4 separate regions of the Homo sapiens genome follow, and all the other regions are linked to region 1. Evidence: fine-mapped expression QTL. A gene starts in region 1. Each other region holds a variant in brackets. All regions are shown on one strand. Distances are from middle to middle. Region 1 holds the start of FARSB (phenylalanyl-tRNA synthetase subunit beta). Region 2 overlaps FARSB (phenylalanyl-tRNA synthetase subunit beta). Region 3 overlaps FARSB (phenylalanyl-tRNA synthetase subunit beta). Region 4 overlaps FARSB (phenylalanyl-tRNA synthetase subunit beta).

Region 1 (6,414 bases):
CTCACTGGTCTCATATTTTGTGTTTGTCATCCTCTGCTTTTACTACAGGCTTACCATTCTATTTATGTATGCCTAACAATATACTCTTTAGGTTAGCCTGGTTTTTAGTGTTTATATTAATGGCATCAAGGATACATATTCTTCTGTGATTTACATTTTTCCCTCAAAATTACAACGTAAGATTTATCCAAGTTGATACATGCAGGTGTAGTTCATTTGTTTACATAACTGTATGGTGTTTCACTGTATACATTTATCATAACTGTCTACCCATTCTAGTACTGACAAACATTGGGTTGTTCCTAGATTTCTGTTATAATGAACAATGTAACCATGAAAATTCTTATTTGAGTCTTCTGGTGCACATGGGTAAGAGTTTCTCTGGGGGAATATTCCTAGCAGTGCAATTGCTGGGTAGTAGGATATGGACATGCCCCATTTTTCTAGGTAAGGCCATATTTTCCAAAGAGGTTATATCAATTTATACTCCCAAATTCTTGCCAAGATCTGATTTTTTTCAGACTTTAAGACTTCTAGCAGTCTCCTAGGTATAAACATGTATGTCCTTATAATTTTTATTTGCATCTCCTTAATTTCTGCTGAGCTGAGAGTTTTTCCATGCCTTTTGTCCAGCTCGTCTTTCCTTCCTAGGAAATGCTGCCACCTCATTCCTGCTTTCAGTCTGGCCCCAAAGTTAGATGAAAGAAGCATGTACCTACATTTTGTGATATACGATCTCATCATTTTCCATGTACCTTTCCTTTCAGTTAGCTAATGCCATTTGTGATGAGCCCTAGTGGCCTAGTTTCCTCTTTTCCATTAGAATCTTCTAACAGTTTAGCTTCTCACAGAGAAGGGACAGAGTACCTGTAACATGTGCAATGATAAAAAGTAGGATAGGTCAGTTGGGGGATGTGAGAGATGGGAACAAAATGCCCCTTGGTGGTCTGAGACTAGCAGAAAACTAACTAGGAGGATTAAAAAAAATGACAGTTGCCCCATTTCCAGGACCTCTGACATGATAAGAACTATACTAGTTATTTATGAGTATTATTTCAAATTCTTACAATAATTCTTTTTTAGTTTTTAAGACAAGGTCTCACTTTGTCACCCAGGCTGGAGTGCTGTGGCGCGATCACAGCTCACCACAGCCTCAACCTCCCGGGCTCAAGTGATCCGCGTAGATGGGATCATAGGTGTGTTGCCGCCATGCCTGGCTAATTTTTCTTTTTGTTTAGAGATGGGGTCCAACTCTGTTGCCCACGCTGGTTTTGAAATCCTGGGCTCAAGTAATCCTCCCACCTCGGCCTCCCAAAGTGCTGGAATTACAGATATGGGACACAATAATTCTTTAAGGTGTATATTATTATCCCTATTTTATGGATGAGGAAACTGAGGTTCAGAGGCCACAGAACACTTTGGAGTGCCCAAAGCAGAGCAGGTCAGCAGGAAGTCCTTTGGTTATTTATTATTACTATTTTGTTGTTGTTGTTGTTATTGCTTTTAAGACAGAGTCTTGCTCTGTCACCCAGGCTGGAGTGCAGTGGCGTGATCTTGGCTCACTGCAACCTCTGCCTCCTGGGTTAAAGTGATTCTCAGTCCTCAGCCTCCCCAGTAGCTGGGATTACAAGTGCCCACCACCACACCCAGCTAATTTTTGTAATTTTAGTAGAGATGGGGTTTTATCATGTTGGCCAGGCTGGTTTCCAACTCTTGACCTCAAGTGATCTGCCCACTTCAGCCTCCCAAAGTGTTGGTATTACAAGTGTGAGCCATCATGCCTGGCACTAGTCCTTTGCTTATTAATTGAGCAGAAAGCACCAATTTTAGGTGGAAAGCTGTATTTTGCATTGGGGATGTTTGCCATTTATGGGGTGTTGCCAATCTGTTATGTTGGTCACTGGGAAGGGACTGCCTTCCCATGGAGGGGAGCTAATACTGTATAGTGAAAAACTGCTTGATTAATAGTTAGGGTGGCTTACATCTGGCTCAGCTTTTCTCCCCTCATGTGAAGGACTTTGGAAGAAGCCCTCACTCACTGTACAGTAGAAAGGATTAGGGCAAGGCTCCCCCTGGAACTGCCAGTTTGTGCCTTAGTTTCATTACCTGTAAAACAGGGATAATGGTACCTATCTTGATGTATTAGTTTCCCTTGGCTGCTGAAACAAATTACCACGAACTTGCTGACTTAAACCATAAATTTATGCTCTCACAGTTCTGGAGGCCAGAAACCCAAAATCAGTTTCACTGGGCCCAAATCAGCATGCATTATAGGGCTGCCCCATGGGCTGGGCGTGAATCTGTCCTTGTCTCTGTTTATTTCAGGGATACATGTGCAGGATGTGAAGGTTTGTTACATAGGTAAATGTATGCCATGGTGGTTTGCTGCCCAGATCATCCCATCACCTAAGTATTAAGCCCAGCATCTATTAGCTATTCTTGATGCTCCCCGCTCCTCCACCCCCTCACCCCCAGTGTGTGCTTGTCTCTTTGTTTCTGGTGGCTGCTGGCATCCTTGGGTTGTGGCTGCCATACTCCAATCTCTGCCACCGTGGCTAAATCGTCTCTCTCAACCTCCCTTTTATGATTTGATGAGGATACTGTGATTCCATTTAGTGTTCGTCTTTCGAATCCAGGATAATCTTCATCTCAAAATCCTTAACTTAACCTGCAAAGACGCTGTTTCCATATAAAGTTACATTTAGAGGTTGCAGGGATTAGGGTCTGATATTATTGGGGGCCGTTATTCAGCCTATTACACTCAGGGTTGTTTTAAGGAGGAAATTTAATGCTGGCAGAGGGCTGAGCACAGCCCACTGACAGCAGAGAGCACTGAGCAAATAGACAAAAAAAGAGGTCTCTTACAATGCCTCCCTTATAGGGCTGCCGTAAAGTTCAAACAAAGCACAGGTATATCACTTATACGAGTAGAGGAGAGATTAAAGAATGAAGTAAAAACTGAGGTCTGTTAACAGCCCCTCTCCCGCCGCCAGGATTTGCACACCTTTCTCTGCAGGAAGCCTTGAACCCTCTCCACTCGCATTTCCACCACCTCCAGGCAAGATCTCCCACGTGGAGGCCCCACCCCCTCCCTGACGCGCCCCACTCTCGCCCCGCCCACCTGGTGGGCGTCCCCGGCCGTTAGCGCCCTGGAAGCATCCGGGACTTCAGGGTCAGTACATTACAATGCCTGACAAATCCTAGCCAGTTCTATCAAATTATATCTTTCTTACAGGCTTTTAAGCTATTAGTCTCATAAAGATACATTTAATCAGCGAGGTAATGGCATGATGAGTGTTTTTAGGTTAAAAAGAGAACAGGAACTGTTGCCAGCAGAATGGCGATATTCAAGACAACACGCACAAGAAGAGGCGGGTCCTACGCGCTTCGCTAGGGAAGCCCGGGTCAGCTCGCTGCGCAGGCGCAGTGAGTTCGACACACCATGCCGACTGTCAGCGTGAAGCGTGATCTGCTCTTCCAAGCCCTGGGCCGCACCTACAGTGAGTGGCGGCCCTATACGTTGGGCCCTACGCCTCTTCTCGGAGGCAGGGCCTCCCTCCAAAAGGGCAATGTGGCGACATTCATGCCTTCCTGAAGGTTTTGGCTCCGGGAGGCCGGGGTTTACGCGGGAAGGCCGATGATGGTGGCGGTCCGGCTGGGCTGTGGTAGCCTCGGAACCGGCATCGCAGCGGTGCCACTGCTTGTGCCCGGCTTGCCGTGTCATTCATTCAGCGATCTGCCATCGAGTGCCTACAGCGTGCCTGGCACCGACATCCAAGCCAGGGGATAGAACAGGAAGGAAACCCGGGGTTGCATCCCGAGCGTAGCCAGTTAATTGCAATAGCAGCGCTGTGGGAACTCAGTTTATAAGGGGGTAGGAGGAGAGATTTGTGCAGCGGGGTGGAGAACGGCATTCCACCTGTCTTCGTTTTATTAATGTTTCCTGAGCGCCTGTTATGTGTCAGGCACTGTTCTAAGAGCTTAGGACTAGAGCTGTGCACACGACACGTCAGGTCCACGTTCTGTCTGATGGAGGCAGACAATTAACCAGCACGTTAATAAAATGATTTCGGATAATGTTAAATGCCATCAAGGAAAGAAAAGGTGTTGTGCCAAGAACAACTTTAGATAGGGTGGTAACATTTGATCTGAGACCTGAATGGGGAGTATTAAATGGGTGTAGACTTCATTCTACATTTCATCTTTTAATCAGTTCTAAAAACACAACCATTGAAAAAAAGGAGGGAGATATTAAATGCAGTTATCAGTTACCTCACAGCCGTAGCAGCTGCCCCACCCTATTTTTTTTTTTATTTTTATTTTTTGAGACGGAGTCTGCACTCCCAGGCTGGAGTGCAGTGGCGCGATCTCGGCTGACAGCAACCTCCGTCTCCCTGTTCAAGCAATTTTCTGCCTCAGCCTCCCGAGTAGCTGGGATTACAGGCGTCCGCCATCGCGCCCGAGTAATTTTTTTGTATTTTTAGAGAGACCAGGTTTCACCATCTTGGCCAGGCTGGTCTTAAACTCCTGACCTCGTGATCCACCTGCCGCGGCCTCCCAAAATGCTGGGATTACAGGCGTGAGCCACCGCGCCCGGCCCCCACCCCATAATTTTTAGCTTGTATAAAGGCTGGACCAACTGGTTCGTGAGAGCTGTTTTTTTTGTTTTTAGGGCTCAGTGTGTTAACAAAGGCCTAATTGGTTTAATGACAGCCACCGCTTCCCAGAATAAGATTACTGTTACAGTGAAAATAAAGCTGGCTTTTAAGAATCTTTCCTAAGTGTGTACTTTTAGATAGTACCTATTCTCTATGTGATATTCTTCGTAAGTTCTGCCATAAGTCCCTGAAAGTAAAGGAAATACAAGGGTATTGTATTACTCTTACCCTTTGTACTTGGCTCTAATCGCCTAATCGCTTTATTTTATAATGAGCTTATTTATATTTCTTACCTGCCCTTCTAAACCATATTCTCACTAATGGGATGTGGTACAGGTTAATAATTCCTTATCCAAAATGCTTGAGACCAGAAGCGTCTTGGATTTTGGATTTTGGGATATTTGCATATACATAATGAGATATTTTGGGGGTGGGACCAAGTCTAAACATGAAATTGATTTATATTTCACATATACCTTATATGCATAGCCTGAAGTTAATTTTATGGAATACTTTAAATAATTTTTTTTTGCATGAAACAAGGTTTTGACTGTGTTTTTGACAAGTCACATGGAGTCAGGTGTGGAATTTTCCACTTGTGACATCATGTCTGCACTTTAAGGTTTTGGGTTTTGGAGCATGTCAGATTTCAGATTTTTGGATTGGGAATGCTCAGTCTGTATACCTGAATTGCCTAAGATGGTAGGTGGCAAATATTTGTTCAAAACATCTATAATCAGTTCCCATCCCAGTCTCCATTTCTAGGGAGGTAAGAAATAATCCAGATTTTTAAAAATGGTGAGATTTATAACCTATTTACTATCATCTGATGTTTTAACATATTCTGTCTGCTTCCCTTTTTTTTTCATATTGTCAGTGATCAATTAAGATTGATTTTTTCACAAATATGTGTTTGTTAGCTACTGAATCTTTTAAGGTCCAGGTACATGGCTGATGCTTGTAATCACAGCACTTTGGGAGGACGAGGTGGGCAGATTGCTTGAGCTCAGGAGTTGGAGACCAGACTGGGCAACACAGCAAAACCCTGTCTCTACAAAAAGTAGCTGGGTGTGGTGGTGTATACGTGTAGTCCCAGCTACTTGGGAGGCTGTGGCCGGAGGATCGCTTAAACCAAGGCGGTCAAGGCTGTAGTGAGCGGTGATCAAGCCACTGCACTCCAGCCCTGGCCACAAAGTGAGACCCTGTCTCAGAAAAAAAAAAAAAAAATTCAGTCAGAAGGATTGATGTTATTTATTGAGATGTACTTTCAAGAGGTCAGAAATGATTCTCCTCATTAGTTTACCTTTATTGTGTTCTTGCTTGAAACTGTTAACTGGGTTGAGGTCAGAATTGAAAAAGCATGTTCAGCAAACATGTGGTTTCCAAGTAGTATGGATACATCTTGTTTCTTACCTTTTTTTTTTTTCCCCAGTCTTCCTCTTTTTTTCTTGTTTTCAGATAATGTCTCATTCACACTTTTAAAATCCACATTCTCTCTCTTTAGTCCCTCCAAGGGTTGCTTTCTATTTGAAATTCCATTGTTTCTACCAGTCCCCACCTTCCTTTTTACCACCTCTTTGCTTAGCAAGGATATTTCTCTTTCAAGCTGTTTGCCATTTTGGTTATTTTGCTCTTCTGACTCCTTTGGAGCAGTTTTGTCTCCTTAGTCTACCTTTTCAACGGACTTTCTGTGCAGATGGTTTCCTCTTGCCACTCCTTTTCTTGTTAACTGATTTATTATCACTGCTCTTCAATT
Region 2 (7,828 bases), 24 kb after region 1:
CTGCCTCGGCCTCCCAAAGTGCTGGGATTACAGGCATGAGCCACCGCGTGCGGCCTAAGCATATTCTTCTATATTTTCTTATCTTTTTTTTTTTTTTTTTGAGACAGAGTCTCACCTTGTTGCCCAGGCTGGACTACAGTGGTGCAATCACAGCTCACTATAGCCTTGACCTTCCTGGCTCAAGTGATCCTCCTACTTCAGCCTCCCAAGTAGCTGAGACCACAAGTGTGTGGCACCACAGCCAGCTAATTTTTACATTTTTTGTGGAGATGGGGTCTCACCATGTTGCCCAGGCTGGTCTTGAACTCTTGGGCTCAAGCAGTCTTGCTGCCTTGGCCTCCCAAAGTGTTGAGATTTCAGGCGTGAGCCACCTCACCTGGCCTCTGTATTTTCTTTGAATAATTTTTATGGTGTCTTTTGTATGTGTGCCTGTGTGTTTGTCTTTTGCTTTTCAAAATGCTTAGGTCTTTGATTCATCTGGAGTTACGTTTTTTTGTTGCTGATTTGAAGTTGAAATTTTGGTGATGTTTTGAGGTACTGTTTTAGGATTAAGGGACCAATGTTAATATCTAAGAAGACAGACTTTCTTACCTGTGCATTTGTCAATTATTAATTTACCTGCATTTATCAAACCATGCATATTTTATCCTATGATAGTTCTGGGTTTATTATCTTCTGTAAGCATATGACTAATTGAGTAAAGTAACACTCCCTTATTGCCTGTTAGCAATTCTTTTTAACCCTATTTATTAAAGTTGTAGTTCACCAGTCCTGCAGTCCTAGAAGTTGACCAAAATTTAATATTAAGCATTTTAAACTAATTTAGTGCACATACACTTTAAACTAAAGAATGTTAAGAACACAAATTTTGACCAAGTTCCTCCTTTCAAATTGACTGTTAGAAAGCCAAACTTGTGTCCTTTCCTGGTAAGACTTAGGCTTTTAGATTCTAATTCAGAATTAACATTTCCTGGCTCGGTTTTACATCCCTACTTCTATTTCTTTCTCTCCTATTTTGTTGCTTGCTGTAATTTCCTAAAATTACCTTAAATCCTTTGTGGATAAACTGTAGAACAAGTGAAATGAATACCTTTTGAACTTTCCTTATACATTAAAGTAAACTTGAACTGTAATTCAGAGCTGTTGAAATTAAAATTAAATTTTTTCCATGACTAAGGTAATGCAGCTATGTGATAAAATTTAGGAAAACATAGAAAAGCCAAAAAACCCACAATTCGATAGTTCGTTCTAATTTATTAAAACATGTTTACTTGAGTATATCAAGAAGAAATAGGTTAAAAGAGGTAAAGGAAATGCTAACTTTGAAGATATCCTAGAAACAATATTTGGGAAAAGATAATGGCAAGGAATTTTCTTCAGCTCCTGAAATCATGTATTTCAGGTAGTTTTGTGATTTCTCAGTACTCTTAATGGTTGTGAGAATTTGTTCATTATATGCCACTAATGATGCCATGTAGTAGCAATATGCTGTTTCAGGGAAGTATCTGAAATAATTAAAAAAAATATGTAGTCTATATTTATGTTATCTTTAGAATTTCGGCTTTAGAATATTCAAATCTGTCTCATTCTCCTCCTTTCCTTTCCTCCCTCCTTCTCCCTCAACCTCTCAACAATTAGGAAAAGAGCACTGGTTGCCATTGGTACCCATGATTTGGACACTTTGTCGGGCCCATTTACTTATACTGCAAAGCGTCCTTCAGATATCAAATTCAAGCCTCTAAATAAGACCAAGGAGTATACAGCCTGTGAACTGATGAACATATACAAGGTAAATATTCTTTTTGATTATGCAGCAGCTTTGCAAAAATCATGAAATTCCATCAAAGTCAAGCCTTGCAACTAGGGAAATGTAATCAATACTTTTAAAAAATAGCAGTGTCTGGACTCCAACCTAGAGACAGTGATTCATCTGATCTAGAGTGGGACCTGAACATAGTTTTATTTTATTTATTATTAAATTTTTAACCTCTGATATGATTTCAGTGTACTGCTAGGATTGAGAACCACTGAAGTAGACCATACCACATTGTAATCTTCAATTGAAACTCATGCAAGTATAAAGAACAGTAAAACTTAGCTAGTGTTTTTTGTGGGAAATACTGTTACAAGCTGTCTATCTCCCATTATTTAAAAGTCCAGCAGCGAAAATGAATTCAGTAGTCACTTTGAATTGTATTTAATAAGTAGAAAAAATAGGTGTCGTTTAGAAAAAGCAGGGTCATCCTTGCCCTGATTTGCAAGTGACTTCTTCGTATTTATCTAAATAGTTTTGTCATGGTTTATGTTTCCTTTGAAATGATTCAGGCATACCAGTGCAAATCTGTTTTCACTCTTGAGAAATGATTCAATTGTGTTCATTGAATACTGGAATATTAATTTATATTAGAAAATCTTATAAATTTAGAGCTTTCTTTAATTTGGGTCTGTTTTAATGTTTTTCTAACTTTTCCCCTCCTTTTTTTTTTTTTTTTTTTTTGAGACGGAGTTTCGCTCTTGTTGCCCAGGCTGGAGTGCAATGGCACAATCTCAGCTCACCGCAACCTCTGCCTCCCGGGTTCAAGTGATCCTCCTGCCTCAGCCTCCCGAGTAGCTGGGATTACAGGCATGTGCCACCACGCCTGGCTAATTTTGTATTTTTAGTTGAGATGGGGTTTCTCCATGTTGGTCAGGCTGGTCTTGAACTCCCAACCTCAGGTGATCCACCGGCCTCAGCCTCCCAAAGTGCTGGGATTACAGGCATGAGCCACCACACCTGGCGTTCTCTTCTTTTTTAATATTAGGTCAGTATGTGAACTATAGTGATAGAAATTAAAAAAAAAAACTAATTTTATTTGACTTAATTTGTTTTCAGACTGACAATCACCTGAAACATTATTTACATATCATTGAAAACAAACCCCTGTATCCAGTTATCTATGATAGCAATGGTGTCGTCCTTTCAATGCCTCCCATCATCAATGGTGAGTTATTTTATAAGCATCACAGATCTTTGCTGTTTCCTTTTAATCTTCAGCATTTCTGTAGAATTCTCAATAGACTTGGCTGAATCAAATTCAAATAACTCATAATCTGAGTATCTCAGGTCTTTTGTAGATTCTAATCATTCTTTTCATTCATTTATTCAACAACATTTTATTGGTGATTCTTATGTAACTTATGCTCATACATTTATAAATATTTTCTGATGCTAGGTTTTGGGTTCTATTATGTTTCTTCAAAGGTTATTGATGTTTTGGTTTTAGCAAGTAATTCACTTGGTTAAACTCAAAGTCAAACTCTGTCATGTCTGTAGTTTTTTTTCTTTTGTTTTTTTTTTTTGTTGTTGTTGTTTTTTGTTTTGTTTTTGAGACAGGCTCTTGCTCTGTCGCCCAGGCTGGAGTGCAGTGGTGCAGTCATGGCTTACTGCAACCTTAAACTCCTGGGCTCAAGCGATTCTCCCACCTTGGCCTCCCAAAGCCCTGGGATTATAGATGTGAGCTGCCGTGCCTGGCCTTGCCTAGTTATATAGTTAAACAAAAACTTTTAATTTAAATTTTGCCCTCTTAATTCCTTTCTGAAGGCTATTTTTATGAGGCAGTTTGAATGTATTTACAAAACTTAATGATGTCTGAGACATAGATGTTTGCGTTTCTGGAGGTAAGAAGGAGGCTTAGCTGATTTGCTATGAGAAGGAGAAGCTTCTTCTCAAGATCTTGGACCCTAGTAGTTACAGTGGTTAAGAACATGGGCCCCAGAGTTAACCAGTTCTAGACCCAAATCCTAGCCTTGCTGCTCATGATCATGGTCAAATAGTTTAATCTCTCTGAATTTAGTTTCTTGCCAGCAATTACATCATAGGATTGTGGTAAAGATTAGAGGAGACAACCTATGTTAAGTGCTTGGCATAGCACCTGACACATTGTATGCATTCAGTAAAGGCCTGTTAATTATTTTATTTTTATTCTTCAACTTGCAGTAGGAGCTTTAAATATAAGTTGTTTATCCCTTTGCTCTTAAGATGTTAGGTTTTTTTTTTATTATTTTTATTTTTTTGAGACAGAGATTTGCTTTTGTTGCCCAGGCTGGAGTGCAATGGCACACTCTCGTGCC[A/G]TTGCACCATGTCGTGCCATTGCACCATGTCGTGCCATTGCACCATCTCGGCTCACCACAACCTGCACCTCCCGGGTTCAAGCAATTCTCCTGCCTGAGCCTCCCAAGTAAGTGGGATTACAGGCATGCGCCACCACGCCTGGCTAATTTTGTATTTTTAGTAGAGAAGGGGTTTCTCTGTGTTAGTTAGGCTGGTCTTGAACTCCTGACCTCAGGTGATCCGCCCACTTTGGCCTCCCAGAGTGCTGGTGGGTGTGAGCCACCATCCCTGGCCAAGGTGTTAGTTTTTAATATGTTTTACATTTAAAATGTAGTTTCTGTTTTGTTGAGCTTAATAGTGCACTTCTATTTCTGAAATTAGTTATTTTAATGTTATTGTTTTGTGTTCATTGCAGGGGATCATTCCAGAATAACAGTAAATACTAGAAATATTTTTATTGAATGCACGGGAACTGACTTTACTAAGGTAAGTAAAACTTTTACTCAATTTTTGTATGATCAGCTGGGATAGATTTTATTTCCGGACCAAGACTAAGTGGCTAAAATTTAAAATATGTGCATTTTGTAGGTGGGAACATATTTTAGAAATTTAGACAATTAAAAAGATAGAGATATTCTACACTTTGGTTATGGTGCTTTCATTAATTCGACAAATGTTTAGTGAGCACCAAATGTCTTTCCAGTGCCAAGAATTTAATAATGAGTTACATGTCTCTTCACTTCAAAGAACTCCTAGGGGGAGAGTTAGTCATATACGTAACTATAAAACACAAAATGGAATGAGTACTATAGCGAAATCCATATAAATTGTTTATCTAGTTGACTTAATTTATATGCGGAGTAATTTGGTACCTTTGTGTACTTGTTAAAATCTTAAAAAAAAAAAAGGAACTGGCGATGAAGAAGCTTTATTTAGTAAATTGATAGATGGTTGGTTTATGCACACAAAATTATCTAGAATATAATTCTTCACCCACTTTGAGTCAGTTCATCTATTGGAATGGATTGCTATGAAAGCTTTTTCTATGACATATGACTTCTTTACATATGTTAAATGAGGTGGCAGTTAAACAATTTAAAAAAGGTAACCTCAAATGGCAGGAGAAGGCTGGAGTATAGAAATAGGGCAAATAAATGGTATTCATGTACATCTTATAGGATTAGAGACCATTGTAAGGTATTTCCTTTATAACTTTTAGGTACTCCTTGCCTTCAGAAATATTGTCAGGGTAGTACAGCTTTTAATATTAATTTTTTAAAAAATTTAATTCGTGCATTTACAGACCTTGAATGTCTTTCCTGAAGCCTGTATATATAGGAGTGAAATATTTATATAAGAGTAAAGCATATATTCCAATAAGGTCACGGTATTTTTTTTCTAAGAATTTTTTTTGAAATAGAAAAATTATTTAACAAATCTATATGGTGTTTACTACATGCCAATTATTTAATCTTTGTAAGTACCAGACAAGATAGGAATTTTCATTATCTCCTTAACAGGTAAGAAAAGTGGTTTGCCTAGTGTCATACTGTTAATAAGTGCTTGAGCCAGGATTCAAGCAGCCTGGCCTCAGAGACTTAGGAGATTGTTAAGATTTATTCCAGTAATTAGCCATTTGTCTCTGTTGAAGCCCAGTGAACCTGAGGTTGGGGGTTGGGGAACGAAACGATTTGTCTCAGTCATGGATTATAACTGTCAGAGAACTGCGTAAATGCAGAACACCTGAAGATAAGGCTAGGCCTACTCATGTTTTTATTCCACTTCCTTTCTTAAAATGTATACGTAAAGGTCCATTAGATGTGAGGACACAATTATATTAAATATTAATTCATTTCCATCTGAGTGAAGAGAATATATTTATAGATTACTATATTTGTTTTTCTTTTCTTTGCAGGCAAAAATAGTTCTTGATATTATTGTCACCATGTTCAGTGAATATTGTGAGAATCAATTTACGTAAGTTCATCCAGCACCTTTATTGATGGCCCATTGTTCTGAAGGCGAGGCTTTGTGCTAAATGTAAAGATAGGCCAGGTGCGGTGGCTCACACCTATAATCCCAGCACTTTGGGAGGCTGAGGCGGGAGGATTGCTTGAGCCCAGGAGTTCAAGACCAGCCTGGGCAACACAAGAAGATGCCATATCTACAAAAAATTAAAAAATTACTTGGGTTTGGTGGCCTGCGCCTGTAGTCCTAGCTATTGGGGAGACTGAGGCAGGAGGATTGCTTGAGTCTGGGAGGTCGAGGCTGCTGTGAGCTATGTTTGTGCCACTGCACTTGAGACTGGGTCACAGAATGAGACACTGGCTTTAAAAAAATGAATGAATAAACAAATATAAAGATTAAAAATGTGGTTCCTATAACTAGAACATATAATCTGTTCAGGGAGATAAGACATACGCATAAATATTGGATAAAGTCATAAGCATTAAGTACTTTAAAAAGTTTTGGTGATATTCCGGCTGTTTGTAAGGGCAAGTTACTGCCAGCTGATACAATCTGAGAAGGCTTCATGGAGGCAATGAAATTTAAGCTGTGTTTGGGGATCATTGGATTTGAGAATATATAGATGGAGGAACAGCAAAAGAGCAGCTAAACAGAGGTAGAGAAGCATATATAAGAGCAAAGCATGTATCCCATGTCGGTAAGATTACTGTATTTTTTCCAAAGCATATTTTTAGTTTAAAAAACTATTTAACACATCTATGTGGTCCTTGGTACTAGCATCATAGTTTATTCTAGAATATTAATATAATTGAAAATAAATATATAACTGTAGAAAGCATGATTGAAATTATATGGGCAGTATCAGTTTTTTTTCAACTGATTTTCATTTCAGTGATTCTTTCAGTTTTATTATGTAACACACTGCCCTGGTAAAGCCTAGAATGTGTGTGTCAGTATTGGCAAGGAGTCCCTGTCGGATGCATGCTTTGCAGTACTGGAAAATAAACCTTTCAAGTAGGTGGTGCCTGAAAAGGACATCGGAGCCCTAGGAGATGAAACAGTAGAGTATTATTGTTTATAGCAAGATCAATCCAAACAGTGCTGGAATGCGATAGATGGAGTATGTTGAGGCTGTAGTTGTAGCCCAAATGAAAGATTTGATAACCATACTCATGTCTGTAATTTATGGCACATTTTTTTCTTAAGTATTTTATTTCTGGCTTTTGTTTTCAGGGTCGAAGCTGCTGAAGTGGTTTTTCCTAATGGAAAATCACATACCTTTCCAGTAAGTGCTTAAGAAATGACTTCATGATTATGACAACAATGCTAATAATAATGGCTATAGAGCACTCATGTTCTGTCTGTCTATCCATCCCCTACCTACCCACCCGTGTGCCAGGCGCTACACTATGTGCATTACATGGATTTAGTCTTCACCATAATCCTGTGAGGGTAGGTGCTCTTATTAAGCTTTTTCCAGATGGAGTCCCTGAGACCTTGAGATGTTAAATACCTTGCTTATTATTTTTAAGTGGTAGAGCTAGGATCTAAATTCAGACAGTTTGACAGCAGCTGTAAACACAACATTATACAACAACATTGTGTGGTCATAATTCCTATGATTTATTCTATTAACTAGTTAACTGAGTAGTTTTTTAAAAAATGTTTTTATTCTTTAATTGGCACATAATAATTGTACATATTTATGGGGTACAGTGTGATGTTTCTATACATGTATATAATATGTAATGATCAAATCATGGTAGTTGG
Region 3 (7,828 bases), 33 kb after region 1:
TATTAGTTTTTAAAAGTTGATTTGGATTAAATATCTATTGTCAGTTAGCTTTTGTTATTTAACAAACTACCCCCAAGACTTAGTGGCTTAAAACAACAACCATTTATTTATCTCATGATTCTTTTGGTCAATAGGGTGGTTTTCCTGGTCTGAGCAAGTTTGGCTAATCTCTGCTGGGCTTACCCATATGTAGTCAGTTGACTGGTTGGCTAGCAACTGGATGATCTGGGATGGCCTCACTCACGTCTGCTTCTTGGCAGTGGGGTCAACAACTCACATGTCCCTCATCATATAGCAGGCTAGCTTGGGCTTTTTGACTTGGGGTTGGTTGCAGGGTTCCTAGCAGCAAGAGAGCATGCCCAGTGCCCAGGCATTTTTCAAACATTATTCTGTTGGCCAAAGCCAGTCATTTGGCTAGATTTGACAGGTGGAGAAATAGATGTCATCTCCTGATTGGAAGATTGGCAGTGTCACATTGCAAGGCCATGGATACAGAGAGGGGAGAAATTTGTGGCCATTTTTGCAGTTTATGACAGTAGCAATTGGGATTAGCTGGACATAGCTTTTTAGATGGTTTTAAAATAATGCCAGAGAAAAGTTTCTTTTTCTTCTTCTTCTTTTTTCTTTTTTGAGATGGAGTCTCCCTCTGTCGCCAAGGCTGGAGTGCAGTGGCGCGATCTCGGCTCACTGCAAGCTCTGCCTCCTGGGTTCACGCCATTCTCCTGCGTTAGCCTCCCGAGTAGCTGGGACTACAGGCGCCCGTCACCACGCCCGGCTAATTTTTTTTTGTATTTTTAGTAGAGATGGGGTTTCACCATGTTAGAGAAGATGGTCTTGATCTCCTGACCTTGTGATCCGCCCGCTTTGGCCTCCCAAAATGCTGGGATTACAGGTGTGAGCCACCGCATCCAGCCTCTTTTCAATATGATGATTTGTCAAGTGTTAATAAAAGTGATTATATATTTTTGGGAAGAAAAGGAGAAATATATTTTAATATTTGGTTCACTCTTCTCCTCATATGGATAAACCCTTAAAATCATTTATTTGTAATATAGAGACCTTTTGTAAATTTGAAATGGTGGGCTTTCTGAAAAGGAGTACTGCATGAGTGTTTTGGCATTTGTTCATTTATTTCCTCCTAAACTTAAATTAGAACAGCTTTTCTTAGGGAAGGATCCTCTGGGGGAAACTGATTCTTTCTCACATGAAATAGCATATTTTCTCAAACTCTGAAAATTTTTTTTCTTGTGTTTTGTTATTTCATAGAAAAAAATAAAGTTTTAAAATAAGAGAACTAGGGGAGATAAGTTGTCAGTAGTCAGACTAATGGTTAATGGTGTGTACTTTGGAATTAGGTTGTCCTAATTTATTAATTCATTAATTTGTTCATTAGTTACTTCTTTTTTTTTTTTTTTTTTTTTTGAGATGGAGTCTCGCTCTGTTACCCAAGCTGGAGTGCAGTAGCATCAGCTCACTGCAACCTCCACCTCCTGGGTTCAAGCGATTCTCCTGCCTCAGCCTCCCGAGTAGCTGGGATTACAGGCTTGTGCCACCATGCCCAGCCAACTTTTTTGTATTTTTAGTAGAGATGGGGTTTCACTACATTGGCCAGGCTGGTCTCGAACTCCTGACCTCAGGTGATCCACCCACCTCGGCCTCCCAAAGTGTTGGGATTACAGGCGTGAGCCACCACGCCCAGCCATTTGTTACTTCTTGTATGCATACATTCACTTATTAAATACATATACCAAACGCTTATTATCTGATAATCAGATAATAAGCACTGGGCATATAGCAGCACTTGGACTTGGCAGTTTACTATTCTGACCTGGAACTAGTTATTCAGCTAAAATTCAAATTCCTTACCTGTCAAATGAGAATACTAATAGCATCTGTTGTGAGGATTAAGTAAGATTATCTTTAAAATGCATCTCGTACTGTTCAGCTCATAATAACTGTTTAGGTCATAGTAACTATTGAGAAAAGTTATTATTACTTTGCAATCTTCACCTTGTGCCTCCCAAACCCTGCAGTGCATTCTCATCACCTGGGGATCTTGAAAACGTGCAGATTGGGCTTCAGTAGCTCTGGTGTCACTGCCACTAGCTATCAAGACCTGCAGTCAGCCTTTCTCACGAGCACTCAGGTGATGCTAGTGCTTCTGCTCTGAGGACCGCATTTTGAGTAGCAAGGTTCCAGACCATTGCCTTACTTGAATCAAAACAGGTTTTAAAATCTATGGCCTTTTTGCTAGTGGCATGTTATACTTTTGAGAGTGAATGAGTGATAAGAAATATTCATAAGGACATTTCCAAAGGTGTTGAAAAGCCTGGGATTTATGTGTGTGTGTTCTCACCTCACTAATACGGTGGAGTTATATACTGTTTGAAGGAGACTGAGTACCAAATTCATCATTGCATTTCTCCACCTGGAAATGGTAAGAAAGGAATATCTTCATCATGCTCTTAGACTTAGTATGATGGACACTGTGATATTGGAATTACTCTTTCTTGGTCATATCCATCTGCTTGCATAGGACGAGACTGAAAATCTTTAGCAGGATTTATAAACGTCTTTGGAATGATGTAGCACAACAGTGTTTTACTGTGGGGAATGGGGAATGACTATCTGAAAGGGAAAATTGTTTGGCATTTTATATTATTTCCAGGCAGTGCAAACTGTCTAGCAAGTAGAATGTTCATATATGAATCTAATATAGCAAATTTATCCCTCATAATACTGTTTTTGAAACATCAAGTTTATTCTCAATGTGTGGCTCTAATGACAATTTCTTGGGAACGTAATAGAACTGCAATAATGACTAATGGAAAAGACTCTAAAGCTGTATCTGATGGGAAATGATTTACTTTTTAAACTCTTTCTATTTAAGGAATTAGCTTACCGAAAGGAGATGGTGAGAGCTGACCTAATTAACAAAAAAGTTGGAATCAGGTATGCTCTGAAAACTTCACTTAATTCAAGAACAAAGTACACGTATGACTAATTTTTTTTTTGCGATCCTTCAGAGTCTGTTAAGGAATGATAAAACATCAGTTAAGATATCTGGTTTCTGATAGAACTCAAAAAGAAAGGTTACTGTTTCAGCTAGTAGCATATGTTGAAACACAATGTAAACATTAAAAAAATAATCCAATGAAGTTTATGGTTTGTTCATTCCTTTTTCAGAGAAACTCCAGAAAATCTTGCCAAACTTCTGACCAGGATGTATTTAAAATCAGAAGTCATAGGTGATGGGAATCAGATTGAGATTGAAATCCCTCCAACCAGAGCTGACATTATCCATGCATGTGATATTGTAGAAGATGCAGCTATTGCTTATGGATATAACAACATTCAGATGACTCTCCCGAAAACTTACACCATAGCTAATCAAGTAAGATTGCACCCTTAAATAAACACTCCTTATTGTTAGAAACTGATTATTTAATGCCAGGAAG[G/C]CTTCGAGAAAACAGAACGTAGGAATCAAGCAGTATTTGGACATGCTCTGCAATGAGAGGCATTTGCTGTGGAGAGGATACAAAACAGATGCCCAAATGATTAGAGTAAGTTGAAAACCTGTGATGACTAGTTCTTTGAAGAAAGACAAGTTTTGAGTTTGGAGCCCTTGTTGAATCTCTCAGAGATTCATTTTCTCAACTTGGGCCTGAAGGCAGAAGCTGTGTGTGGGAGAGATGGAAGTGGGGGTGGTTTGTACATCTGTGTAGGAGCAGAGGGGTGGCAGAGCGGTGGGGAGGGAGGAGGTAATATTGATAGGGAAATAGTGGCATTAGCAGTACGTTAGTAAGGGTGAAAAGGTTTTTAATCTTTTAAACATTTTTATTTAAAAAAGTTTTAATGGCATGTTCTGTATAAATCTCCCTTTTAAAAAACAAGAAATAATTGCGGTGAAATCAAGTGGATGCTTTTTTTTTCAGTTTCCTCTTAATAAGCTCACTGAACTTCTCCGACATGACATGGCAGCCGCTGGCTTCACTGAAGCACTTACCTTTGCCCTGGTATGTCTTACATGCTTTTTCTGCCCAGATGATTATTTACTTAGACTCTCTGAATTATTTATTCTATGATGCTTTATAAGAATTTATAAAATCTAGACTGTTAGAACTTCCAGATTCTGGAAGAATAACTTTGTTACTTGAGATTATACAATTCCTGGTAAAGTAATGTTGAAGCTTTTGTTTTTACAGCCACAAAAGAAAATGAAGGCCTAGAAAAAAATACCTCAAATGAGAGATGACAAAGTATTTTATAGTTTCATGTGAGTGTTGAGAGTTCACAATGTATTTCATAACCAAATTTATTAAGTTAGAATATTTGGTCTTAATTTGGTTATGGCTGTGCCCACTAGATGCCGTCCTGGGTAAAGGCTTGTGGACTGTTCCACATTAAATTAATTTCTTTGTCTTTGAACATGTTCACAAACATTTGCTTTGAGTTGAAAAGCTGACATAAAAGGCCTAAATCAGGAAATGACTTTTATTACAAAATCAGAAGGAAATTTCCCTCCCCCACCAGATTGACCATTTGAAAGAATAAAATGTGTATGCAATTTGTAGTTCCGTTTTTCCCTCTTGCTGAGCATTTCTGTGGTGCCTGCAATGTAGTTCTTGAGCATTCAAGTATGTTTAATCTATGAGGGGAAAGGAAGCTTCTTCTTTTTCTCCCCTGCAACTTAGCCCTACCTCTGAAATTCTCAATATTTTAGAGTATTTAAGGGACTCTACTTCTAGTTTGCTTAATAAATATTAAGCATTAAGATTTTTCTGATTCAGGAGTCATTCATTCAACATTTGTTGAGCATTTATTATATGTCAGGCACTGCACCAATGAGGAAGCCTGAGGCTGAGAGAGGATAAGTACGTAGCACATTTTACACGGACAGCAGGAGAACTGCTGTGTTCCAGGCCACCATACCTGCATGATCTCATTATATCATGAGCAGGGTCCTGACCTTTAGCCTCCTAGAACAGTGCTTTTCCATGGTCTCATACCGTGTACACTAGGTCTGTAATGCCATGTCATTCATCTTTGCACATATATATACACACATTTGTAGTTGTGAGCATCCAGGATTTCATATAAAATGAAGTACCAAAAATAACATTGAAAAATATATTTTTATTTTTTAAAACATATGAGTGTCACAGGAATACATCTTATTTTAAAGGACTCATACTTTAACCATGTAGATTAAACCATAACAGTTCTTTTCCCCACTTCGAATCCTCTTTTCCTCCCCAGAAACAACTGCTGTTAAAACTTGGGTATGCATTTTTCCCTGCCCTTTTATATTAGTGGTGCCAGTTTGAAAAAAGTTACTTATTACTTTATCCTTTTTATACTTATACTTTATACTTATTACAATATCCATTGCCAGTTTGATTTTGTGACCTTAGAGCCTCATGTGTCTTCGAAGGAGCACAGAGGCCGAGTCTTGACTAGTGGCTGCTCTGCAGGGAATGTTTACCCTGTGCCAAGGGCTTTGTGTACATGATTCCATTTCTTCTCAGTATACTCCTGTGAAGTGGGCATTCCTGTCTTTCACAGCAGTTAATTTAAGTAACTTGTCCTACGCCATGGCTGTGGATCAGGGATTCCCGCCCATGCCTGTCTGCATCCAAGGCCTGTGACTGAACTGTCACACCAGGGATGTTAGAAACAGTCTGTTTAGCTGTCCAAAGTCACTTTAATACATTCAATGTTTATCACTGGGGGGAAGAGAAAGGAGTGAGCTCCTAGAGGGTTTCAGATTTGTACTAAATTTTCCTGTAGGAATTTCAACATTAAAGATGTTTATAAAGATGTTTATAGGCAAGCCTAAGCATCGCTGAGCAAAGATGGTCTATGTTGTTAAATCCAGTTTTGCACAAGAGTAACAGCCATTTTTTTAAGCCTAGTCTCTGACTTTCTAAGTGTAAATAATTCACACTTCATCATATTGATTTTTGCTATATCTGCATAGTAGTTGTAATATTTTCTTTTAAATTGGCTCACTTTTAAGTTGGCTTATGTACTTCAGCCTTGTTATAGGAATAATATCTGTAAAAACTATAAGGTTCATTTACTTGTTGTATTTTTCTAACACATTAAAATAAACACATAAATATTAACATTAAAAAAGTTCCTGGCAGGCATGGTGGCTCATGCCTGTAATCCCAGCACTTTGGGAGGCCGAGGCGGGCGGATCACTTGAGGCTACAAGTTCGAGACCAGTGTGGCCAACATGGCAAAACCCCATCTCTACTAAAAATACAAAAATTAGTCGGGTGTGGTGGAGGTTGCAGCAAGCCGAGATTGCACCACTGAACTCCAGTGTGGGCGACAGGGTGAGACTCTGTCTCAAACAAAAAAAAGTTTCTTACTGTGTACTAACTACTGCCACTTCAGGGTAGCTTAATTTAAATTGCCTCTTGTCACTATCCCTTATTATCCATTGCCATGATAAAATACAAGTTCACTCAGATACACAGCTGCGTTGCCATGTGTCTGCAGAGTGTTTTTCTTTTACACAGAGAGGACTAGTTTCATTTGAGAATAGATTGCTTCATGTCAGTTGCATTTCATAATTAATCAGTCACATTATACCTAAGTCTTGCTGTAAAACTTCTTTATGCTGTGGGGAAAACGCTTATCCCCAGTGTGCATGTCACCATTCTCCATCTCAGCAGCTGTAGCAGATCCGGGAGCTGTTTTCTGCTATGGCTGGATGTGGCTTCAGGATCTTTCTCAAGAAAGCATGGCAAGAATCACTAGAACTGACATTGACATGAAATGAATTCTTTTTACCATTTCAGTTGATGTGTATCATTTTGTTTTAATAAGTGAAATACAGGCCAACTAGCCTTTGAAAACTAGTTGTAGAACAGCATAATGAACAATATTGCCTAACATTGGACAATAGTACAATAATCTGATGGTACATCAGTTTTTGTGTTACGTTTTAAATGCTTTTTCAAAAAGCTAGCATTAATATACATGATAATAATTTATCCTTAGTAATGATTTGTCAGTTATCATCATTGTTGGTATTTTTTGAGTGCTTACTCTGTGCCAGGCACCATACTTGCATTATCTCATTATATCATTTATTATTAGACTTGATGTATCTAATCGTCAGTGAGTTTTTAATTTCATAACTTCTGCCTACAATGCTGGTTTCTGAGGGTGGCAAGCATCTTTCTCTTCGATTGGTGGGTACTCAGCAGTTTATTTGTTATGAGTTTCAGGCATGTGCACAGAAGTTAAGTGATACAGTAAAGAACACTGGGCAGAGTTCCAGTCACTTGAATTCTGTTGTCAGTCCTACTGTTCTGCCACAAGTCAGTATGGATTTAGCAAGGGTTATAATGGTAGTCAAAATGGAAAGTCATGAAATACCAAGGAGGGAGAGAAAGTTTCTGACTAGAGTCATTAGGAATATTATGGAAGAGAGGTCATTTAAGTCAGCCTTAGGGAATGGTAGCAGGTGAGGCTGGGAGGACATTTCAGGTAAGGTAGGGAAACATAAGGTTTAGGGAATGGCTAGGGCATCATGGGAGATTAGATTGGAAAGGTAAATGGGAAACTAGCTTAGGAAGGGCCCGAGTACAGTTTATACCATCTCCATGTGAAAAATTTACTTTAGCTCTGTATGATGGCTAGGACTCATTGTGAAAGAAGTATTAATGTTAAATTCCATCTGCTATGGGCCTGAGATTGATGTGTATTTATTGTTAGCTTATTCTTTTTTTGTTTGTTTTTTATTATTATTATTATTACATTTACTTCAGCTCACACCAGGCCTATTCTTAACTTGCTGATATGTGTAGAG
Region 4 (7,828 bases), 86 kb after region 1:
CATGTGGGTTGGTAGGGAAGGATAATTTGTATTGGATGATAGGGCAGCATGCTTCCTTTTTACGTGTGAGTTGGTAGGGGAGGATGATTAGTATTGGACAAGAGGGCAGCAGGCTCCTGTATGTGCTGTCAGCTCCATTGGACCGCTGTGAAGGCCTTCTGACCCCAGAGCAGTTTGAGATGCTGCAGTGGCCTGGATGGGTCTATGTGTCCAGGTGACAGGTGAGAGCTTTTGATATTTATGTTATGTAGAATACTCATATGCTTGGATATGTTTTAAATAAAGCATAGTATGAATTTTAGTTCTTTTTTGCTTTTCTTTGGAAAGAGGGAAAATTATACTTAGTGACACAAATATTTTTTGTCTGATCAAGTACCTAACTGATTAATGAGCTAAAGCAAAGTTTGATCCCAACTTCTGGAGAGAGGTAGATCTGGCAACTGAAGAAGAATATAACTGAATTTTGCTAAAAAAAAAAGTGCTGATTCGAAAAGTTGTTTTATGAAGTAAAAATTCTAAGCTCTTATCTCTTAGGCTTTATTTTGCTAACATTGTTAGAACTAGCACATCTGGCTTAGATTCCAAAATAGTTTGGTTTTATGCTTGTAAAAATGAAACCAATCAAATTGGAATTGAAGATAGATGAAAGGATGGATTTTGGTACAATGAGGATTCTTAAACACAGTAAAGTTATCAGGGAAGATCCTGAACATTGCCTTTCTGAGTGTCCCTTAAAAATAGACTGGTGTCAAACATCAGCATCACACAATATACCCAGGTAACAAACTTGAACACGTACCCGTTGAATCTATTAATAAGATAAAAGTTCATAAAAACCACAGCAAGCTGGTGTCTTTTTTCAGGTAGTGTGGTTGTATTCAAGTCTAGCTCTGTATAGGGGTGCTGGGGTGCTGGGATAAATAATTCCCAGCAGTCCTTCCAGTTCTGCAGTTCTTGATTATATTGCTTACCATCAACACCTTATATAATCTTCACTTACATGTCATTTGAAGATTTTTCTTCTCCTTTGGGGAGTCGAGGGGAGGAGAGTTTTGTCTTTTAAGTTAGACATTTATTTTGATAGAATTAAAATGTGCCATCTTTATCAGATTTAGTAATATTCATATGAATGTGAATATTCATATTAATATGAAACTAAGGCTCTATAATATTAGTTGGGTTTGGTTTCTGCATTGTTTTATTTGGTTTCCCTCCCTATCCCTCACCCCAAGTGTGGATTAGTGTGCAGAGCCAGATAGTTAAATGCAGTCACTGAAATTCTTGCTTTAAAAGACAGTGAGGCAGAATTGTTTAGTTTGGAGAGATGTGAAAAAGAGGCCACCTTAATATTTCACCTCTGTTGCTTTGGGTTTACTTAAGAATGACAATTTAGAATATTTTCCAGCTCTTTCCCCAGAAATATAAACAAAGATCCTTCTCTGCTGGTCAAGAAATATATGTAATTGTCCTTTGTCTCTGTGGTACTAACTTGACAGTAGCCGGTTCCCCTCCCCTCCAACCTGATTCTGTATTTCCTAAGCATGCTGACCTTGGAACCATTAGTAGAGACTCAGCAGTTTACTCTTTCATCAATAATGCACTCACTCTGAAGTGGCAGGCTGGACACTGTGGCCCAGCTCTGCATGGGTGTTTATAGTTTATGCCAGTAAATGTTTCTGTTGAATCTGTCAGGAGCTGCAGGCCTGATCCCTTTTCAAGTTGGTGGTGAGAGCAGTGAGTCAGCATATTTGTAAACTTCAGAAGAGTACAGAACACTGATAATTTACTGTGGCACTGGTAATTTCATGAATATGGAGTGGGCCCATATGTTCATTTTTAGCTCTGTAAATCTCAAGAACTGTTACTGCCTTGGTAAGCTGTATCAGTGCATTGGCACCCAGATAAAGAGAACTTTCTGCCTGTCTTGAAGTAAATGAGGCATCAACCCAGACTTGTGTTAGGCTGGCCTTTGCTGTGGTTTTACAGTAGATGCTTCAGAACTGCTTAGAAAGCTCTTTTCAGATGGGAATGTGGGTTGCCTTCTGGTAGCATGGCCTGTCATCAGAGGTGTGGTTCCCCCAGTAGCCGGCCTATGACACGGCGGCTCCAGTTTCTTTATGTAATAAGGTGAGAAAGAGTGAGGAAGAGTTGTACAGAGCAAATGAATTCAGTGTCGATGTCTTATCCAGTGAGCGTTGCTATGGAAAAACCTGTTTGAAAACAGGTTCTTCCCATTAAGTTCATCAGTTTTATGTTTCATTTTTTTCCTTTTGGCCTTTTTAGGACCAGTTCCAAGTGCAGGCAGAGTTCCCCTAGGACTTCTGACTGTGGACCTTCAGCAGCCTCCATGATTTCATCCTTCCTGCTCGGGTCCCTGTTACCAAAAATACAGGGCCCTTATTTTCATATTTGCCCCGGATTTTTTCCTTGCAAGAGTTTCTTGATAGCAAATCCTTCTTTTAAATACTAGAAAGTATGAGGAAGCGTTCTCTTTTCATAGCCAGTGATTTAAAGAATAGTTATTTTTAAAGTAGACTAGTGGGCTTTTAGTGTTAAATGTCTATTGATGTTTTGCCAGAAGAAACATTGATTTTTCTCTTACTTTCTCTTTTTCAGGGCCTGCTTTCTTCCCCGGGCGATGTGCAGAGATCTTTGCCAGGGGTCAAAGCGTCGGGAAGCTTGGGGTCCTTCATCCTGACGTTATCACCAAATTTGAGCTGACCATGCCCTGCTCCTCCCTAGAAATCAATGTTGGACCCTTTTTGTGAAGATTGGTCTCTGTGGTGTGATTCTCTTCCCAGGTGTCCCTTTCTCCTCCCCTAGTGTCCTTAAGTCCTCCTCCACAGGGAACATCTATTTGGGCTTTGATGTTTAATAAAGTAGAAAGCACTGTCTGGCTGTGTGGGTAGAGACCATCCTTTCCCTGCATATTAGGCCAGCTTGTGCCATATACCAGTGTGGTGTCTGTGTGTGAAGCTGCATTGTTGGGTAAAAGCCCCGTGGAGTGCTGGAGAAATGCACTAGCAGAGTGCAGGATCTGTTCTGAAAGGCAGACGTGCTCCTCAGACATCAGAACATCACATTGGAACGGATTACTCCTGCATAACAAGATCCCATTTCTTTCCTTATTGATAAAACAAGATAATCGATGAGAATTCATGTTGCATGAGTTCGAGATAACTGAGGGGTTTAGCTTTGATTTTCTACATTTGACATGTATTCATCATTGAGAAACACTAAAATAACAATATTTTTAGAAAACGTTTAAGAATCAATTATGGTCCAACAATTATAGCTTCTGAGGTCAGTTTAAAGTGAAAGAAAAATCTGTAATACAAGGATTCAAAATATGTGAGGGTGCATAGGTATTTTTTACTCTATCTGTGATACTCTAAGATAGAGTACATGCAACAAAGATCTGTTCTGCTGTAAGAGTTAAAATGGACAAGTATTGATATCAATGCAGTATGAACATTAGGAAACAATGAGAAGCTTATTTTTGCCATAGGCCATACATGTTACTGTAATCAGTCAGTTATAAAATCATGGTTTTAAATACTTAATTGAGCTACTAGTTTCTCTATTGTCCCAGGGAGATATTAGACCTCTCTTTTTCTGAAGCTAAGCTTCAGCCAATCCTCCTTGTTTTATATCCTAATTTCCTTTCTTACTTCAATCTAGAATTCTCCAGTAGGTACCATCTCTGGAAAAAAGCTGGGTCTCATGTTTGAGACAAGTTCCCAGGTACTATTGAAGTAATAAGAAATATGATAAAATATAATACTTTAAAGTCCCAGTAGAAATAGCTAACAAAGGCTGGGTGCGCTGTGGCTCATGCCTGTAATCCTAGCACTTTGGGAGGCTGAGGTGGGCAGATCACTTGAGGCCAATAGTTCGAGATCAGCCTGACCAACATGGTGAAATGCCATCTCCACTAAAAATATAAAAATTAGCCAGGCATGGTGGTGTGGGCCTGCAGTCCCAGCTACCTGGGAGGCTGAGTCAGGAAAATCTCTTGAACCAGGAGGTGGACGTTGCAGTGATCCCAGATTGTGCCACTGCCCTCCAGCCTGGGTGACAGAGTGAGATTCTGTCTACAAAAAAAAAAAAGAAGAAGTAGCTAACAAAGATAGTGAAATAAGAATTATGTTTATGGATCTTTTGCTGAGTCTACTACTAGGAGAAAACCTGACCATATTACAACCTTGAATTGGGGCAGCAGTGTCTAACTCTGTAAGATTTGTGAACACACACACTTCCAGCTGACCCTTCACAGCTCTGTTA[T/G]AAGCAGATCCTTACAACATTTTAAAAATGAAATATGCCCTCTAAAAATAATGCATGCCAAAAGGACTTGTATCCAGCATGCATAAAGATTTCTTAAAACTTAATAATAAAACTTAATAGTAAAAATAAAACAACTGTTTTTTAAAAATGTGCAAGAGTTGAGCAAACATTTCCCAAAAGATGACATATGAATGAGCACTTGAAAAGATCCTCAACATCGTTAGTCATCAGGGAAATGCAACTAAAATTCACAATGACAAACTGCATACCCATTAAAATGGCTAAAATTTAAGATTCATAAATCAAATACTGCTGAGACTGGAGCAAGTGGAACTTTCATGCACTGCTGGTGAGTCACAATGTAAAATGTTACATTGTGACTTTAGAAAACAGCTTGGCAGTCTCTTGAAACATACACCTACCATCTAGCCATTCTATTCCTAGGTTTACCCATATGGCCAAAGATTTTTATGCAAGTGTTCACAGTGTTACTTATAGTAGTTACAAATTGCAGTATATCCATACTATGAAATACTTCTCAGCAATAAGAAGGAATGAACTACTGATCCTCAAAACAACATGAATGAATTTCAAAACAGTATGCTAAGTGAAAGCAAGAGACACAAAAGACTCTATTTAATTCTATTTACCTGAGAGTCTAAAAAAGTCAAAAGCAGGTGGTCGGCAGGACCTCAGGAAAGAGAACTGACTGCAGTGGGTTAAGAGAAAACTTTTTGGGGTGATGGAAATTTTATCTTAATTGAGGTGGTAGGTGTACTTCAGGTGTAGGTTATACCTTTGTAAAGCTGGGAGAAAAAGAATGTAATGTAACATGTAGTATTTTACTGATTTTAACTACATAACACCAGTTGATAAATGCCTAGAGAAATAGCCTGAACTGTAGAATTGGCAGTTGTGCTCAAGGTGGCTCACTGGTCCACAGCTATTAATGATATATTCTCCCTTAGTTTCAGGTTCGCTCTAGTTAAAATCATGGCTTATGGATCATCATATGATAGCCCTTGTTGAAGTAGGTGGAACCATTTGTTCTGTCAGCAGCTACCCACCTGGATATTTTTGGGGGTGGCCAAAATTACTTGTAATGAAAAACCCACTAATGCCTAATTGTATATCCCAGCATGAAAGGGGAAAGATCAACTCCATGCATCATGTAGATGTTTCTGCCCTCGGAAGCAGGAAATGGTAGGCAGAAAAACAGTGTCGGCTGCATTGGAAGAAGCGAATCCAGCTCATGAGTCGAGGCTCTGCAGCCAGATCATCTTACACTTGTCCCTGGTGAAGCATTTGAACTGGAGCCAGGGCAGTCTGTGAGTACTGCCAAAAGCCTTTATTACAGAAGATGCACACCTTCTTAGTAAAAACTGGGAGCTCTAGTATTAAAGTGAAAATTAAATGGAATTGATTTTTGTTCTAGCTTAGAAAAAACTTAAATTCTACCACTACAGCCTCACAGTCCTGCAGTGCTCTTCTAGTTTTGTTTGTTTTTTGTTTTTTTAGACGGAGTCTCGCTCTGTCACCCAGGCTGGAGTGCAATGGCACAATCTTGGCTCACTGCAACCTCCACCTCCTGGGTTCAAGCAATTCTCCTGCCTCAGCTTCCCGAGTAGCTGGGACTACAGGTGTGTGCCACCATGCCTGGATAATTTTTGTATTTTTAGTAGAGACGGGGTTTCACCACGTTAGCTAGGCTGGTCTCGAACTTCTGACCTCAGGCGATCTGTCCACCTCTGCCTCCCAAAGTGCTGGGATTACAGGCGCCCAGCCTGCTCTTCTGTTTTTAAATTATTTTTGAATTGATCTTTTTTCACATTTTAATTTTTTTGGTTTAATAACGGTATGAGAGTAGGAATTCTCCCTGATGTGTAGGGTGAAAACAGTTGAGTTTCAGAGAGATCAATAACTTACTCAGAAGTCACATAGCCAATAAATGAGTTTGAGACACTATAAAAGAGTGACTTGGAGTCCACAGACCACTCACTGATTTGCATTATTTACTTATTTATGCGAAAGTAAATAATGGGACTTTCTACACTTTTTAAAAATATAAAAATAATGGGAGACAAAAAGTTAAAAATTGTTAAGTCCAATACTTTAAAAAAACTCTGCAAACTGTGGCCTTACTGAGTTAATCTACCTTTCTTCCTCCTGATTCCCTGAAGTAACTAACTGCTGTTAACAATTTAGCCTGTATTGTTCCTTAGTTTGGACATTTTCCTTGATTTGTACAGTCAGCCACACACACCTGCTCACATTTTTGGGGGTCATGCTCTACTTACTGGTTTGCAACAAGTTTTGTTTTTTATTTTACATATATCTCATGACATTTCACTTAATATGCCCCATTTTTTCAGGTCAGTGCCTATAGACCTATCTCATTCTTTTAAATGAGGTAATATTCTATTGTACAGATGTCCGTAATTGTTCAATTATTCCCTTGTTGGTGGACATTCAGTTGTTTCCAACTGTTTGCAATTATAAACACTGCTCCAATGAACCCCCTATCCTGCTAAATAGCACTGGCTTAGGACCCCAAGGAAAACCAGTCCTAATGGGTGCAAGACTGTATAAATATCCACATTTGACAGACACATTCAGAGATGCATAGAGTTCATTAGATATTTCTTTGATGTGACGTTTGTACTTGAACTATATATTATTCCAGTACCTTACATCTTAGATGTAGAAGTCGCTAGGTCAAAGGATGTGTTTTGAATTTAAAACATGTTGAATGACTGTTCTCACATTTTAAACAGGAGTAATCTACTACAAACCAGCCAGCCTAACCACTGCCCCTGCTCTCAGCAATGATGGGCTCATCAGCTTGGTAAGAGAGAACATTACTCACAATCTTGCTTCTCAATCTTAATCTATTTGTGCTTGGTGTTTTATATAACATCACTAACCCTAATACTTGAGTATTTACTTTGGCCCTTCTGTCCATTTTATCCAAAAGCAAACAGATAGCCTTCAAGGGACACCATTGCCTTAAGCAGAATATGCCTCCTAAGCATTGAAAGCCTTTGACCCATCTGATATCCAAGTTCTGGCTTATTATGTTATTAGGGCCTTGAATAACTTTATGTATATTATTATGGACTGAATGTATCCCCACAAATTCATGTTGACCCTCTGACCTCCAGTGTGATGGTCTTTGGAGATGAGGCCTTTGGCAGGTGATTAGAGCTAGATGAGGTCATGAGAGGGAGGCCCTCATGAAAGGCTCAGTGGCCTGATAAGAAGAAACACCAGAGAGCTTGCTCTGTTTCTCTGCCTACCTGGCGCACACATACAGAAGAGGTGATATGACCACACAGCAACATGGTGGCCACCAGCAAGCTAGGAGAGGGATCAGAATGAAACCTATTTTGCTGGCACCTTGATCTTGAAATTCTAGCCTCCAGAACTGTGAGAAATAAAATTCTTTTATTGAAGCCACCCAGCCTATAGTCTTTTGTTGTGACAGTCCCAGCAAACTAAAACACATTATTGAAAACTTGCATTCAAAAAGTAGAGAGTGGCATGC

What was found. PIP is the estimated chance that this variant, and not a neighbour inherited with it, causes the effect. A credible set is the group of variants that fine-mapping cannot tell apart.
Region 2: its variant is the best candidate, but not a certain one, in a credible set for the expression of FARSB in skeletal muscle (GTEx, PIP 0.58).
Region 3: its variant is the best candidate, but not a certain one, in a credible set for the expression of FARSB in testis (GTEx, PIP 0.75).
Region 4: its variant is the best candidate, but not a certain one, in a credible set for the expression of FARSB in whole blood (INTERVAL, PIP 0.61).

Annotation. Positions count from the first base shown.
Region 1 is chr2:222,653,102-222,659,515 of GRCh38, reverse strand. FARSB (phenylalanyl-tRNA synthetase subunit beta) reads left to right here and starts at 3,424. Exons shown (of 17, transcript NM_005687.5): 1 at 3,424-3,500. The coding sequence starts at 3,443. LOC124907985 (a long non-coding RNA gene) reads right to left here and starts at 3,083. Exons shown (of 2, transcript XR_007088095.1): 1 at 3,005-3,083. RefSeq lists a silencer at 3,001-3,197 and an enhancer at 3,314-3,363.
Region 2 is chr2:222,628,352-222,636,179 of GRCh38, reverse strand. It overlaps FARSB (phenylalanyl-tRNA synthetase subunit beta), which reads left to right. Exons shown (of 17, transcript NM_005687.5): 6 at 1,639-1,789; 7 at 2,873-2,981; 8 at 4,506-4,576; 9 at 6,006-6,067; 10 at 7,292-7,343. Among named protein-coding and RNA genes, the nearest start is that of FARSB, 24 kb to the left of the region's middle. The variant A/G (reference allele first, on the strand shown) is at 4,111.
Region 3 is chr2:222,619,838-222,627,665 of GRCh38, reverse strand. FARSB (phenylalanyl-tRNA synthetase subunit beta) reads left to right here. Exons shown (of 17, transcript NM_005687.5): 11 at 2,891-2,952; 12 at 3,187-3,394; 13 at 3,936-4,016. Among named protein-coding and RNA genes, the nearest start is that of FARSB, 32 kb to the left of the region's middle. The variant G/C (reference allele first, on the strand shown) is at 3,459.
Region 4 is chr2:222,566,811-222,574,638 of GRCh38, reverse strand. FARSB (phenylalanyl-tRNA synthetase subunit beta) reads left to right here. Exons shown (of 17, transcript NM_005687.5): 17 at 2,617-7,740. The coding sequence ends at 2,768. Among named protein-coding and RNA genes, the nearest start is that of FARSB, 85 kb to the left of the region's middle. The variant T/G (reference allele first, on the strand shown) is at 4,285.